2 linked regions of the Homo sapiens genome follow. The protein of the gene in region 2 interacts with the protein of the main gene of each other region in a pairwise test. Each region holds a gene or a part of one and is shown on either strand. Other genes may lie near its edges.

What was found.
Region 1: the proteins of EYA3 (region 2) and DSCAM interact in a two-hybrid assay, tested with the Homo sapiens proteins (one large-scale study listed by BioGRID and IntAct).

Annotation. Positions count from the first base shown.
Region 1 is NC_000021.9:40,077,631-40,081,450, forward strand, and holds part of DSCAM (cell adhesion molecule DSCAM isoform CHD2-42 precursor), read right to left. Parts: intron 2,711-3,820; coding exon 2,522-2,710; intron 1,348-2,521; coding exon 1,057-1,347; intron 1-1,056. UniProt on the Homo sapiens protein: Cell adhesion molecule that plays a role in neuronal self-avoidance. Promotes repulsion between specific neuronal processes of either the same cell or the same subtype of cells.
Region 2 is NC_000001.11:28,078,304-28,082,123, forward strand, and holds part of EYA3 (protein phosphatase EYA3), read right to left. Parts: intron 2,149-3,820; exon of another isoform or gene 2,029-2,148; intron 1-2,028. UniProt on the Homo sapiens protein: Tyrosine phosphatase that specifically dephosphorylates 'Tyr-142' of histone H2AX (H2AXY142ph). 'Tyr-142' phosphorylation of histone H2AX plays a central role in DNA repair and acts as a mark that distinguishes between apoptotic and repair responses to genotoxic stress.

The sequences.
Region 1 (3,820 bases), on a different chromosome or scaffold from region 2:
CTAATTTTACAGCCCTCAGTTATGAGTGACTTCATTGAAAGGCATCCCCTCACAAAGCATCACCCACAGGTAGAGGAGCACTTCCAACGTGGTCTTGGCTTGGCTGTCAATAAAGGGTTTGGGTGTTTCTTGGTTAACTCATTCAACACTGTGGTCTAGCCTGACCAACAGGCAGTGAATAGAAGGCTCTGAGGAGAGTTGCACTGGAGTTCCAACTCATCCTGATGCATTGCTGCCGTTTTTACCTTGCAATTAGAGCACCTAACTCAATCCTTGCTGTTCCCCTAGTGAGAAATGAGCATCAGCCCGCTGCTGCTGGGACTTTCTAAAGTTCCCCTACTAAGTTGCAGTCGAGGACTCGCTCCTTTCAGCTTCACTGGGCTTAGCATTTGTTCAGTTAGCAATAAATGGCCCTTGATACCAGAAAAAATGAGTGAGATTTTAAACCATTTATTTTTGGTTAACTAATGTCAAGAGACACCTCACCTAGTTTTTGGAAAGTAAATGCAAGTGGCAAGTGTGTGTGAGTTTGTGTGTGTGCACGTGTTCATGGATTCCTATTATTATCCTATTTCCATCAGTGGCCCTGCTCCTGCCCAGAGACTAACATAAGCTCCTTTACCATGGAAAATTGTTTTTGCACATGCAGTTTAGGGTGTAATGAGTGCAAAAAAGAAAGTTGTTATGTGGATTGGGATGAGGTGGGGAAAGGGGTGGGAGACAACAAAAGCAATGTTAGCTCATAGACATCAACACAAGCACAGAACCACAGGGTCAAGAGTCCTTCAGCCCTAAGAGAAATCACTCCTGCCCCATGACTCCCCAGTGAGACTCCCTATGGCCCTGAGTCTCTTATTTCTGGACACACAGTGATGGTCATCTGGATATAACGAACTAGGGAGCCCCAGACAGAGTCCATTGAATCCCGAAAGCCTAATGGGCTCCGTGGGCACTGGTCAAACTATGGCAAAGATGATGTTCGATGGGAAAGGGGCAGGGCCCACGTGCACATCCCCCAAGACACAAGCAGGAGAGCCACAAAGCCAGCCAGCTTACTGCCATCGTAGTTCAGCGTAGCGAAGTTGGCCTGCTTCTCCGCGCAGCCCGCACTGTTGCACACCCGCATCTGCAGCTCATACCAGGTGGCTTCCTGCAGGTCATACAGGATGTAGGACTTGGAGAGAGAGGTCCTCTGAGCTGTGGTCCAAACTGTGGTCCCAAAGGGCCTGTACTCTAGTGTGAAGGAGGTGATGGGGCAGCCGCCATCATTCCAGCCAATGAGGTTCAGCCTCACGCGTGTGGTGTTGATGCTGGCAAACAGCTCCTGCTCCTTTGAGAACTGGGGCTCTGGGGGAGAAGGCACATGGAGGTCAGCTCACAGGACACATGGGGAGGCCATCAGCATCTTCACGCATTTCCCTCGGACTGCTTCCTCCAGCGAGGCCAGGAGCTCAGTCCAAGTCTGGCTCACAGGCCACTGGCAACTTGTCCCCTGTTAATAGAGACTTTATGGACCAACAGGCTTTCTCCAACTGTAATGACCTGGGTGTGTGACAGAAAATTGCATGGGTGGAGGTTATTTTGGGGTATCTTAGAGTTCCCTAAAGAACAATAGGATGTTCACATATGGGTTTCCTTCTGTGGTTTGCGGGGCAGTGTGCTGGGCACTTTTTCCATCCTCATGTGATGAACCTGATTCAAGAGAAGACAGAGTTGGATTTGGGAAGCACCAACAGATTTTCCTCCACAACTAAACACTTGGTCTTGGTGCCCAGGGACCTAAAGGATATATTTCTGCATAAATCAATCCCCGATCATTTGACCTCTTACCACTTGTTACCCAAAACTGTGGCACCAGGCACAAATAATACCCTTGCTATCTCATTACTCGCTCTCCTGCCATCTGACCCCACCCCACCTGGTAGGACTCCTATGGGAGGGAAGCCTGCAAAGACATCTCCTCACCTTCTTCCTATGCCCACATAGAGCTGCATCATCCCTCCTTCCTTCTGGAGTTCCTGGGACAAAACCTCTTTCTCTGAATATGATTTCTTTGGGATTCATCTCCTTGAAAGTCCACATTTTAGATTAAAAAAAAAACAAACGCAATTTACCCCATCATTTTCCCTCTGAAAAGCGGTGGCTATGTGGCAATGTGGAAATGATAGGAAGGTGGGAGCAAGGGTGGCTAAGGGAGAAGGGCGCCTCCAAACGGCTGAGAGGGCAAGCGCCACGCTTCATGGCTGCCCAGCCTTGGCACCTCACATTCACACCAACGCCCTTGATTTTCAAACTGACATTCTTCTTTTTAACTGCAAATGAAACAATAAAAGAGAGGACCAGAACACTCTGGAAGGTCCAGCTGTCCCTCTCATTATGCCGTGGCACTGCTGAAGCCATGTGAGGAATGACAAAGTTCAAACACATAAACGTAAAACATGATGGATCTTTTATGATTCCAATCTCCTCTTCTGGCCGGGAAAAGAAAGGATATTAAGAAGCGATGAGAAGGCATACCTACCTTTTCCTAAGGTCTTTGCTTCTATGATTTCACTTATGCGCCCTGGGCCCACTCCATTTTGGGCTGTCAGTGTGAACTTATACCAAGTCCCACATTTGAGATTTTCCAAGCGATAGGAACGTTCGCTGGGGCTGATTGGAAAACTCCCCCACTGCTCACTATTGTCCTCGGAGTACTGCAGTATGTATCCTGCAGAGAATGAGAAAGATTCACATGAGCACTGTGTTTGCTTTCTATGGGAAGTGGACTGATGCTTGCATTTTGTGTGGGTAATAGAACGAGCATTCTCAGAACTGAAGAATCTTCAGAAGGAACATTTTCGCTCTTTCTGATTCCAGGAAATGTAACCCAGCCTGGGAGAAGCACCATGATGTATTGATTAGTGAGTCATTTGGGCCACACCAGACATTATCACTGTGAAGTATTGCTGTTTTCTGCTCATTCTCTTCTAAAAGCCATATTGAGCAGCAGGGAATACTTAAGTTGCCAAATATCTGTCCCTCAGATCATACATGCCTGAATCCTTGAGTGAAGACATAGGCTGAAGCTGTTATTTTTGCAAGACACTCGAATCTCTGGGAAAGGGATACATTATCAATGGGAGTAGAGATTTCTTCAACTGCCTCACTCCTCATGTACTCCTGGTCTCACAGTTCACAGACACTAGGAGAAACAGCTCCAAGTCTTGCAGCCATCCCACTATTCTGACAGTAACCTGGCTTCTCTTTGGTTTGAAAAATTCCTCCAACAATTCATTCCCCCACATGAGCACTACCTCTACTTTTACAACTAGTAAGGATGACTGTCCACTCTAGAGCACTCACTCCATGCCAAGCCCTGTCCTAAGCCCTTTGCTTACAGTATTTCTGCAACCCTATGGAACAGTGACGACTCTCCCACAGAACACGTGGGACACTGAAGTCCAGAGCAGTTAAGCGGTGAGTCCCAAGTGCTGAAAGGAGGATGCAGATCCTGCAGTCAGCCTGAAGCCCATGTTCTTCACCCCTGTGAATGCTGAAATATTCTTCCTGTTAACTCCTTCAGCCCTGTTATCTGCAGCCATGTTCCTTCTCCACCCTGGCTAGCTGGCCTGGAACATGGTGTGTTTGCAACAACGGGTTGGTACCTTCTATTCCTGTCCTGTGGAGCTCCATTTTAATAAAAATAAAGCATTTTTTTTCCCTGCACACTACAGTGTCTCCTAAACCCAAATGGGCAGGTTTGCTGATTTCCACACCCCTTACATGGCGATCACTCATCTCTGATGCCTCCTTCTGAGGTCATTGTCAGTATCTCCCC
Region 2 (3,820 bases):
ACGCTACACAAGAACTTTCCCTACAGGTCCTCAAGACAAGATATTTTCAAGCTCCTGAGCAATATAACATTAAATGTCAATCATGCCCTGTTACTCAGCAAATATACAGAACTCATCATAGTCACAAACACTCTCAGGAGCTCCAACTGTGAGTTGATACTATTAATAGCAAACATTTATGGAATGCTTCTTATGGGTCAGGTACCGTTCTAAGTACTTTTAATATATTAACTATTTCTTTTTCTTCTTCTTTTCTTTAATTGAGACAGTCTCGCTCTGTTACCCAGGCTGAAGCGCAGTGGCATGATCTCAGCTCACTGCAACCTCCACCTCCCAGGTTTAGCAATTTTTATGCCTCAGCCTCCTGAGTAGCTGGGATTATAGGCATGCACCACCATGCCCAGGTAATACATTAATTATTTTAATCTTTCAATAAGTCTATAAAATAGAAGCTATTTGTTATTATCACCATTTTACAGATGAGAAAACTAAGGCACAGAGAGTAACTTCCCCAATGCTATACACATAGTAAGTCACCAACCTGGTATTCGAGCCCAGGCAGGCTAGCTTCAAAGCCTGAGTTCTCAAACCACAGCTATGTGTCTCATAATGGAACAATGCAGACAGGACTGGTGATATTTAAAAGCTGACTGAGCTTAAAATGTATGATATGCCATACTATAGTCATCAACAGCCAGAATTCTTAAGCCAAGTAATGAGAACATACGAGAAGATGGCAAGTCTTCTTCTTTATCCTTTACCATTCTCATTTTTTTTCCCCAGGCCTCCCAAGTATGAGTATGAGTTAACACAAGTGAAGTGCTTTAAATAGTGCCTGGCACATAGTAAGTGCTCACTAAGTGTTAAGAGCAGGTAGTGGTATAAAAATAGTAGAGTATGTCTGCTGACCCTGTTTCACTCTACCAGCTAGGATAGGCAAGGAACTGTTGATATTTCTACGCCCTTTCCCCCTTTGTGATTACAGGAAACGAATTGGGACAATACATAAATGTAATCCACTGTCGCAAACCCTAATTACTCTTCAGTCATGTTATTTCACCTGACCATATACACATGAGCAAACTGCTTCATTCCTCAGTCCTCTTTTTTTGGTTTACAAAGACTGGACTTGGGCCAGAAGAGAGCAGAATAAAGCAGCTTTGTAACCTTTTGACTAGTTGCCAAGAACAGAAGCAAGGTTTGTGAAAACCAACTGAAAGGACCTAAACTTTGGACTGTTAGATGGAAACTAGCAAAGGATTCTAACGATAGAAGCTCAGCATACAACCGAGCATTTTCAACCTCACGATTCCAAAATAAGTTTTTAAAATAATGTGCCTAGAAATGGTAAAGAACAGGGATGACAGTAATGGTAATCAGGGCAACAGGACCTCCCTCTCTCAATGATTGTTCTGCAGCTATTTAGGTTAAGTTTTACAGAATCCATCCACGTACATTGCAGAGAAAAAAACTAGCAAACCTAAACATTTTCTTTTTTTTTTTTTTGGTAGAGACAGGGTCTCGCTATGTTGCCCAGGCTAGTCTTGAACTCCTGGGCTTAAGTGATCCTCCTACTTCAGCCTCCCAAAGTGCTGGGATTACAGGCATGAGCCACCACACCTGGCCCCAAACCTAAACATTTTCCATTACAAAAAGACAATATTAGGGGAAAGATCTAGCAGTCACTAAAATTTTGCAAACTGCAGGTACATTGCATTAACTACGGAAACTAAAGAAAAAATTCAATTTCACCTAAAAGCTAATCATTCTAATGTATTCCCGTAGTAACGGCACTGATATCAACTTAGTGAATGGAAACCAGCAGTTTGTTTTAAATTAAAAACAATAAAACAAATAGAGGCCAGGCACAGTGGCTCACACCTATAATTCCAGCACTTTGGGAGGCTGAGGCAGGAGGATCACTTGAGCCCAGGAGTTCAAGACCAGCCTGGGCAATACAGTGAAACCGCATCTATAAAACACAAAACAAACAAACAAAAAAAATTAGTGAGGCATGGTGGCACACACCTGTAGTCTCAGCTGCTTGGGAGGCTGAGGCAGGAGGATCACCTGAGCCCAGGAGGTCGAGGCTGCAGTGAGCCGTGATAGCGTCACTACGCTTCAGCCCAGGTGATACAGGGTGAGATCCTGTCTCAAAAAACAAACAAACAAACAAAATAGAATAGAAAATATTAATATTACAATGCATCACCAGTAGTAAAGATACTGTTTCAAGAAACTTCTGTTTCGATTTCAAATATTAATATGTACATATATGTGTCTGAGTACTGGATAGCAATGTAAAATGTATTTTATAGTGGGTCATGATCAGAAAAGTTTAAAAGCCACTTTATCAGAAAAAAAAAAAAAATGGCCAGTCAAAAAGGGAAGAAAATAACCACTTCATACTACAGAGGAAACAACATTCAGAGTTTGATGGTTCTCTTTTTTGTTTGTTTGTTTTGAGACGGAGTTTCGCTCTTGTTGCCCAGGCTGGAGTGCAATAGCGTGGTCTCGGCTCACTGCAACCTCCGCCTCCTGGGTTTAAGCGATTCTCCTGCCTCAGCCTCCCAAGTAGCTGGGATTATAGGCGCCTGCCACCATGCCTGGCTAATTTTGTATTTTTTTTTTTGGTAGAGACGGGGTTTCACCATGTTGGCTAGGCTGGTCTTGAACTCCTGCCTCTCAGGTGATCCTCCCGCCTCGGCCTCCCAAAGTGCTGGGATTACAGGCATGAGCCACTGCGCCCGGCCGATGGTTCTCTAAATTGTAGTTTTATATAAGCAAGCCTCTGAAAGAGAACAAAAAAGATAAAGGAAACCACTGAGTTACTTCCAAAAATTTTTTTTTGCACAGAATGTGAGGTACCTACAGTAAATAAATACATACTAACAAAAAATACATAGAAATGAAAGCAAAAATTTTCAGTTTATCTACCTATTAAATGCCCCACTAAATATGAGAGATGGCCTATTCTCTTTGTGAAGCTCTAGTTCTCACTCTCAAGAATATTATTCATTAGTGTTGCCTAACTACTGCTTCCTAACCTATAGCAGAAGAACACCTGGTGAAAAGCAAAAGCAGATTTCAAAAATTATTCTTTAAATTATCACAGATGTTTCCTAAATTTGACATTTTTAAATTTAAAAGAGAAAAATTCAGTGATGTAATAAAACACTGATTTTTATAAGATATTTAGGTACTATTTTTTATCCTATAATGTTCTCTAAAGTCTGAAATATTCCCCCAAAATTCATACATGTATATATTGGATTATTCTTTTGGTAAAGAGAGTGAGATTATCACATTCATTTCATCAATCTACTAGGAAAAAATTAACATCATTGTGCTAAATTAAATGTTCCTCTTATTTTGAAAAGGGGGAGGGGCACAACAGGTGAAGCTGACCTAAATCGTTTTCAGTCACTATGGAAACTAAAGAAAAAATTCAATTTCACCTAAAAGCTAATCATTCTAATGTATTCCCGTAGTAACGGTGCTGATAGCAACTACCTACCAATTTTCCTAAATTCAGTAATTGCTACAATATTAAATTTCAGGTGAAAGAAAACTATTGAAATGTTTAAATACACTGATTATCAGACCCACATTGCTTTGAATGTGGAAGCCATTAAATTAAATTAAATTGCAGAAGCAATTTAAAAGGGAATTGCTTTGAATCAAAAATTAAATGTTTAACTAAAAGTAAAGAACATTCTAAATATCAACAAGTATTATCATCATAGCAAAGCTTACTCTGTTCAGCTCCATAACAATACTTTCCCACCAAGTGGAAAAAGGACAAAAGCTACTATAAAAA